2 linked regions of the Homo sapiens genome follow. The protein of the gene in region 1 interacts with the protein of each later gene in a pairwise test. Each region holds a gene or a part of one and is shown on either strand. Other genes may lie near its edges.

The links.
Region 2: the proteins of CTNND2 (region 1) and NCAM2 interact in a two-hybrid assay, tested with the Homo sapiens proteins (one large-scale study listed by BioGRID and IntAct).

The regions. Positions count from the first base shown.
Region 1 is NC_000005.10:11,386,843-11,390,659, reverse strand, and holds part of CTNND2 (catenin delta-2), read left to right. Parts: intron 1-3,817. UniProt on the Homo sapiens protein: Has a critical role in neuronal development, particularly in the formation and/or maintenance of dendritic spines and synapses. Involved in the regulation of Wnt signaling.
Region 2 is NC_000021.9:20,996,766-21,001,372, forward strand, and holds the start of NCAM2 (neural cell adhesion molecule 2 isoform 2 precursor), read left to right. Parts: upstream 1-1,643; 5' UTR 1,644-1,798; coding exon 1,799-1,853; intron 1,854-4,607. UniProt on the Homo sapiens protein: May play important roles in selective fasciculation and zone-to-zone projection of the primary olfactory axons.

The sequences.
Region 1 (3,817 bases):
AACTGGGGGACTTGCTGGCAATTTAAGAAAACTTGGCAGGTCTAAATGCATCTTCACAGGACCGCTCATAAATCATGAGCCTGCTTTATAAAATGTGCTTTTGCTTAGTGACAGGGCTTACTCATGATGAGAAGTCAAGATTCCTTAGAGATTACAGGCTGTCAGGTCTCTTGTTAACTGGATATAAGCATTGGGGGGATTTGTTTTGTTTTGTTTGCACTGCCAGATCCCCAAAGAATGAGGATTGAATAAATTTTCAAGTTCTGAGAATTGTCCCCTTATGACTCCTCTGCCATTCCTACTCCCTCCATAGAAGATTCAGCGTGAAAGAATCTGGAAGCAAATGTGCTTGGCACTAAAACGAGTGCCACTTTCTGGTTTAAGAGTGCCATATTCTTAGGGGCTCCTACTCCCCCAAAGAACAGTGTCTTAATTGTGGCCAGATAGTATTCTGTACAAACAAAAATACTCCATCGATAGATCTCCAAAATAACATCAAAGTAAAATACTCCATATAAGGGAATTGTTGAGAGCTCTTCAAAAACAAACTCCTCATTTGTACATGGTGTAGACAGGTCAAGCATCCCTTGTTTGAAATGCAGGGGATCAGAAGTGTTTTGGATTTCAGATTTTGGCGGGGGGCGATTTTAGAATACTTGCGTATCCATAATGAGATTTCTTGGGATGGGACTCCCCCCCAGTCTAAAGACAAAATTCATTTGTATTTCATACATAACTCATAGCCTGAAGGTAAGTTTATATGACATTTTAAATAATGTTGTACATGAAACAAAGTTTATGTACATTATACCATCAGAAAGCAAAGGTGTCAGGTGTAGAATTTTCTACTGTGACATTCATGTCAGTGCTCAAAATGTTTGGGATTTTTGGATTTCAGATTTTGGATTTTCAGAGTAGGGATTCCCAGACTGTAGTAGGCTCTTCTTAATGGTTTATTGAGTCAGTGAGTAAATTAATGCATCAAACTTGAGTACTGTTCATTAATGGCTGTTGGAATAATGTACATATTCCCTAACTTCCCATTTCAATATTTTTTCTACTATACTTTGTAAATACATCCTCCCCTTAAACAGTTCTATAAAATAGATATCAATGCATCTACAATTACACAAGAGGCCTCAATATACCACTAAGTACACACACACACACCATGTAATGTAAAAATTGTGACACTGAATATATCCTAAATCTGACCCATCTGAAACATATGTATACAGATAAAATAATTTGTAATAGCTTTGATGAGTTAATGTTCCATATTTTTCTTGAAAAATTTCCCATAAGGGAAACAAGAACTGAACTACACTTAATGTGCACCATACTCTACCTATCAGAAACTGTTGAATCAGAACATCTCCTTGATGGGGTTGTTTATCTGTGAACATTCTGCTTCCTTGTCCATTTCTCGTAAATGGGTTCCTCATTTTGAAGGAGTGGGAAAGACAAATAAAGTTGCCCTCGAGGCTGAGACTGATCCAAAGAGCTGAGAATGAAGACAGAGTCAAGAATTGTCTCTGCCAACAGCCTAGATGGTGTGACCAAGGATGGGGCCCAATCTATTCCAAGTATATCTAAATTTGTTATATCATTATTTTTATTTTCAGAGTCACACATCAATAAAAAATTATTTCAACTGTCTTTGCATGTACACACACATTTCCAAATATCTGCAGGGAAGCAGTATGTAGTAATCTTTAGTTTAAAAAAGGAAAATGAAACTTTACTTGAATTCTAACTTTAAAATCAGATTTGCAGCTTTATAGTGCTAACATACTTTTAAGGTAGAATTGAACTCTTGTGACACTAAAGTGAATACAATTCTGTATGTGTTGGAATGTGTTTCGATTATCTCTAATGCAACGATGGGTAGTAATAAACTGTCCTATGATTGTGCAGCTGGCTTGAATGACAGCCTCAGGTAACCTTAACTGACAAAGAGTTACTAAATCAAATTCGGTAGTGAAAGAAAACATAAGCACAAGGGTGAAAAGAGGCTCCCCCAAATTTTGTTTTTATTCAAATGATGCTACAAAACAAATTTCTCTGTTTAACCAAAGAATAGTTCTTAGGCATTTATTACTCTATAAGCCATTGAAATGGAGTATAGCACCCCTGGTTTATTTATTGTAAACTGCAGAGGAGCTTAGACAACTGTGCTGTCCAAGAAGGTGGCCACTAGTCACATGTGGCTGTTTAACTTAATTAAAGTTAAGTATGTACTGAAGTTCCTCAGCTGATTAGCCACATTTCAAGCTGTCAATCAGCCCATGTGTTCAGCGGTGCCATATTGAGCAGTACGGATTGAGAACATTCTCTACGTTGTAGAAAGCATTGCTGGTAACACACCAGTGTAGCTGGTGCTCCTGAGAAGGTGCTCTAGTTGATAATGGCTTCTTATGCAAATGGATTCAGGAGGCTTTTTTGGAAGTGCATTTTAGTACACAGTGGACAATACCACTTACTATGTTAAACAGTATATAAAATTTTATTGTTTATACTTTTCCTTTTTTCATGCCAAAATTATTAGCACAATTTTACCAAGATCCTATAATATCTAAAAGACTTTCAAATTGGTTGCCGTAGCTTGTCAAAATGTCTACAGCTCATGTGGCAGTTGTCAAGACTTCTACAGATTTGGGGTGCATTTAAGAAAACATAGGAGACAGTCGTATTCAGCACTTAGTACACCTGAGACTAGATGTTTTGACAGATTACAAGAAAAATAAAGTATTTGTAAAAAGCATTAAGGTTTTCACAGGATATATGTTCTAATATTTAAATATTAGAATGAATACCGACTTAATATTCTCATTTACATTGGTATGCTTTAGTTAGTATTTATTAAAAATTATGCTATTTGGTAATGGCATCGTTAGTGTACTCTAAGGTTGTTTTATTAATGTTACATAGCCAAGACATAACAAAAAGTTTTTGTTTTGTTGTAAACAGGGAGCAGAGAGTGCTCCTGAAACCTTAGAGAAAGGGTTCTTTCTTCTCATTTTGTTCCTGTGGGAAGGGTTTTCAGAAATTTTTGTCGGATGCTTTTCCATCACTTGCCAGCTGTGTTCTGCATGGCTGAGTGTTGCTCAGGCCCCAGTTGATAGGGAACCCCAGTAGAGCTTCAGAAGAAAAATGTCTGCAGCTTAGTGGTAGTTCTCAGAGCAACAGCATTTGCCTGCTCTGGGAGATTGTTAGAAATGCAGACTCTGGGGCCCACTCCGCACCCTCCAAATCCAAGTGTCTTCTGGAGCAGTGTTGGCAAACTTTGACCAGCACCATAATCACCCAGAGTACTGGTTAAAACCCAGATCCCTCAGCCCCTCCCCCAGAGTTTGTTCAGTTTATGGTGGGGGTATGATTCTGATTGCTCTGATTCCTCTAGAATTTTTTTTTTTTTAATGCTGAAAAGACCATCAGGGACCTCCCTTTGAAAACCACTGCTCTAGCGGGACGTGGGACTCATGCTTGGTTGCACAGTGAAATCACCTGCTGAGCTTCCAAAAAAAACTGATATATGGTCTCACCTTCAGGGATGCTGAATTAAATAGCAATGGTAAGTCATGAGTATTGAGATTTTTTTTAAAAGCACCCTTGGAGATTATAATATACAACTAGATTTGAGAAGCCCAATCTATTTAATACATGTTTCATGCTCAGAGCTGCCACTGGGAGAGAAGCAAAATTGCATCAAAGCCACCCCCTCAATGACTCTGGATGAAGCTAGACTATTTCTCTGGGGCTCAGAGTAAGCACACCCACATCTGTAGTGTTCGTTACCCATCCTCCACATATAAGA
Region 2 (4,607 bases), on another chromosome or scaffold:
TCCTGATAACCCCATCCCAGGATGCCAAGTGGACGAATCATCTGTATAAAGCGCTCTGCCTGGGGAGGACAAATCGCAGACGGTATCTCCCCTATGCATGTTAGCCTGTGTCTACTCTTGCCCCCTGCCCTCCCTGAAGGCAATGCACTGCCCTTTTCAGCGTGAAATCCCCAGGCTGGGGCTGGATTCTGAGCTCTACATTTCTACCTCCCCCCTCTCCAACCCCCGCTATTTCTATGTCCTCACTGATAAGGAAGGAGCTAGGGTCCTTGTGGAGGCCGGGGCGAGGCAGTTGAGTTTTCTAAGGAGCCAGAGAGAAAGTGCAGATGAAAGGACCCATCGTCAGCGTTTGCAGGTCGCGGTAACCCCAGGCCAGATTGACATGGGCTCCGCACCCGGGCCGGTGATTCTGCCTCTTAACCGCTCTTGCAGGAGAGGTGACGTTAATCTCACAAACGTTTTCCTACCCTTCTAGGAGAAATAACGATAAGCCCCAATCTTAAGGAGCAGAGAGTTAGTTCCGGGCGTTTGCCACGGCTCCCTCACTTCAATTTACACTCGCACACGCGGGTACGTGGGTGTTCGGGGTAGGGCACTGATCTGGGGAAGGTCTCCCCCCCGCGACCCAACTCATCTTTGCACATTTGCAGTCCTCCCTCGGTGCACTCCTGGCGGGGATCTGGCCAGTGCAGCGCACTGGGACCGAGGGCAGAGCCCGCGGAGTGAGGCCAGGAGAGACTTCAGGCCTCTAAGGACACAGCTGAGGCTAAGGCTGAGTTGAACGCAGCCCCTCCCGCGGCTCGTCCCCTCTCCAGTGTCTCTCCCGTAAGGTGCCGCTCCCAACAGCAATGGGTCGAGATGTAGAGGAAACACTCTGTACGTTATTTTTCCGCCCACCCTTTAGCGCCTGAGGAGACAGACAGTGTAGACTTTAGGGTACAATTGCTTCCCCTCTGTCGCGGCGGGGTGGGGAGCGTGGGAAGGGGACAGCCGCGCAAGGGGCCAGCCTGCTCCAGGTTTGAGCGAGAGAGGGAGAAGGAGGTCCACGGAGAGACAAGAATCTCCCTCCTCCCACGCCCAAAAGGAATAAGCTGCGGGGCACACCGCCCGCCTCCAGATCCCCCATTCACGTTGAGCCGGGGCGCGCTCGGGGCGGTCGCCTGCAGTATCAGTATCAGCATCAGCATCAGCATCAGCATCTGCATGAGCATCAGCTCAGCTCAGCTCAGCTCAGCATCAGCTCAGCTGTCCTGAGGCAGCCGGCGGCTGTGAAGGAGCTCCAGGCTGCCCCCATCCCCACGCCCTTCTCGGCTCAGGGCGTGCATGAACCTGCGGATGGCCGGCGGGCGAGTGGCGCCTTCGCGATCGCGGCCGCCCCTCTAGGCGGAGGCACCGGGGACCGAACCCGTGACTTCGAGCTCCACTGCGGACGAATCCCGGGACCGCGCGCCTCGCGGAAGAGCGGCCGCCGTGCAGCGCGGAGGGATACGCCTCGGCCGCACCTCCCCTCGCCGCGCCCCCGCCCCCGCCGCCCTCCCCGCCCGGCTCTGCTGCCGCCGCGGCGGCCGCTGCTGCTGCTGCTTCTGCCGCCGCTGCCGCCGCCGCTGCCTGGATATAGTGCGGCAAGAGCGGAGCTTGCAGTCACTTTGCGAGGAGGAGCGCGCGGGCTGCGGGCGGCTGGGGCACCGCGGGAGCGGCGGCGGCGGCTCTAGCAGAGGCGGCCGGGGCAGCGAAAGGTTCTCTCTCCAGGGCTGGACTTAATAACTTTGAAACTGTCCACCGGTGTCACGTCCTGAACATGAGCCTCCTCCTCTCCTTCTACCTGCTGGGGTTGCTTGTCAGTAGCGGGCAAGGTAGGAGTGTGGCGCTTTATTGCATTTACTTTCCCTCCCCCTTCCACCCGGCCAAGAGAGGCAAAGAGGGAGGCGCAGGAAGAATGAAATGAAAGAACTAAAGTTACAGTTATTGCTGTTGTTGTTATTATTATTTTCGTTCTTTCTCCTAGCTGTCCCTAAAATTGTATCTGTTGTGTGGAGACCCTTAAATAAGAGAAGGGAAAATACAGAATTGGAGAGGGGAATCGGTGAGCAGGATATCCAGGGAAACCGCTTCTTCTTCTTCTTTTTTTTTCCTCTGGGATTATGGCTTTCTCTTATTTTTATTATCAGAAATTGGATGAGTGTGTTAACAGTGAAATATCTGAGGTTGCGGAAGGAAAGGGCACGATGGTGTTTTACAGAAGCAGCAAAAACTATCAGTGTTAAACTCATTTGCAAAATATCTGCTGTGTGCAAGACGTTCGATTCTTGGAGACTCTTTTTTTTTTCCACCCCTTTCCCAAAACCCTAATTCCTGACTATGAAGTGAATGATGATGGCTTATTTCTGTTGGAAACTAAGAGAGGGGCCGTGGATATTGTGTGTAAGAAAGCAAATGGATAAAACTAGGGATGTGTTGCAGTCATTCATTTTGACCCCAACCCCTTATTAATACAGAAAGGTGGAATCATTTTATAACATTACATTGTAATTACACCTGTAGAGGATTTTTGGGGTTGTGGGAGAACTGGTGGAAGCTTTTATCTCTTAAAAAAAAAAAATGAATAGCCTGGTAGAATAACCTGAGAGGGAATTTGTGGAAGCTATCACTGTTTGTCTCTAGAGAGATAGATATGAATTTATCTGGCTGTTTAGATAGTAAACACTCACATGAAATATATTTACAATAAATGGAAGCATTTTCAACTGTCCAGACAAGTTTGGACGTTTAATTAGGGACACAAAATGCTAAAACATGCATTGGTGAAAGTCTTTAAAGGAAAAATAAAATAGCACTAATTTTGAGATATGTAATGATTGCAAAGAATGTTATGTTGTTAGTGTAGTGTGAAATTGGTTTTTTAAAATAATATAATAAATTACAAGACAAGTTAAAATATCCCCAAGATATTCAGTTCTAAGCATTTTTAGCCTCTTCTGTATTGCTCGTTTGGTCCAGCAGGGGGTGGTAGAACTCCATTTTAAGCCCAGAAGTTGGTTTCTGCTCTTCCACAGAGTCCTTCTATCATTCTTCAGCAGGGCTTGACATTTTGGATGTGAAGCCTTCCTTTTTCTGCCCTTCTCCTCCCCACAGCTATAGTGTTAGTGGCGGATGAAACACGATTGGATGCAGATTTAATGTTCAGAAATCAGTATGCAAATGTTGGATATTCCTATAGTTTGTAAAGTGTCTTGATAAGATTCTGCTCATTTTCCCTTCCTAACATAGAGTATGAAATATTTCAGTCTTAGCAAAATTGCAGATATGTCCATCTGAAGCTAATACTAGCCCAATTCGTTAATTCAGTGGTTCTTAAGCAAAGATCAGCATGCACATATGTCCTACAGATATGCTTCTTTAATTTTCAGATAGCTGCTGATTGTGTTTAACTGTTCATTTATAGCATAGACAGGTATTTTTGAGCACCAAGAAACAATCCCTGAAAATTGCAGTTAAAATACAACTGCAATTAAATAAGTGTAGGTAGTGTGGGGCAGAATGGGAGCATAATAGGAAACAAGTTTATGCAGACTTAGGATTACATTGTGAGTGGTTTGGAGAAGAAAAATGTCTCAGTTGTGGAATCTGAATTTATCATTGTAGAGGCTAAGTGTGTTGGAATTTGGAGACATAGGAAATTAGAAATGTTTAGATATATAGGTTTAAATAGTACACAGAGACATAAAATTTGGATGTGTACATGTAACATAGATGTGAAATTGTGATTCAGCTAATTTGTAAGTCAGGATACGAGGTGGTTATGAAGAGGCACTCTGAGACAAGCATCTCTGAAGGGGAGCCCATATTCACTGTAATGAAACAGGGTAGAAGGAGACCATCATTGTAAAGATCTCTCTATCTAGTACAATTTCACAATGTGTGGCACTCATAGAGACACAGATATATATCAGAGAGACGTAGCTTTTGTGAAAGGGAACATATAGTACTTCTATGCCATGTGTCCTGATGAAGTCAGAGATGCTTGGATATAGATATCCTCATCCTGGAGTCCAATTCCTCTATGCTAGTGTTTTGTTCTCTAATTAAGGATGCAGCAGCAAGTATCAGACACACCACCGGGAGCTGTTTAAAAAAACAGACCTAGTGTAACTCATGATTTTGTTTATTCTCTTGTAAAGAGGGCCATGGAAAAGCCACCAGTCAGTGATCCCTGGTCTTGCCTTAGAAATACTAAAATCTCAGCTTGCTGATTTATGTGTCCAACAGTATACTTGCAGGGGATTTTATGAAGCATGATTGAAGCTATTGCTTTGGAAAGTGGTGTGCAGTTAGACTGAGGAAAGGCAACAATGATGTATTCCCTTTTTAGGAGTCAAAACGTTTTGAACTGAAGCAGTTGAATAGGAGAAAATGACATTAAGTGAGAAACTGACTAACTTAAGTGAATGCCAATACTATAATTAGCTAACAAGGCCTAATAGTTTACTTGTAACTCTCAATACAACCTTATTGTTGTACAGTAGTAAGACGCTTTTTTTTATTGTAGCAGAAATACTCCTTTAAAAGCCTCTAATTTCCACTGCAAGATTAATGTATAATGAAGTAAG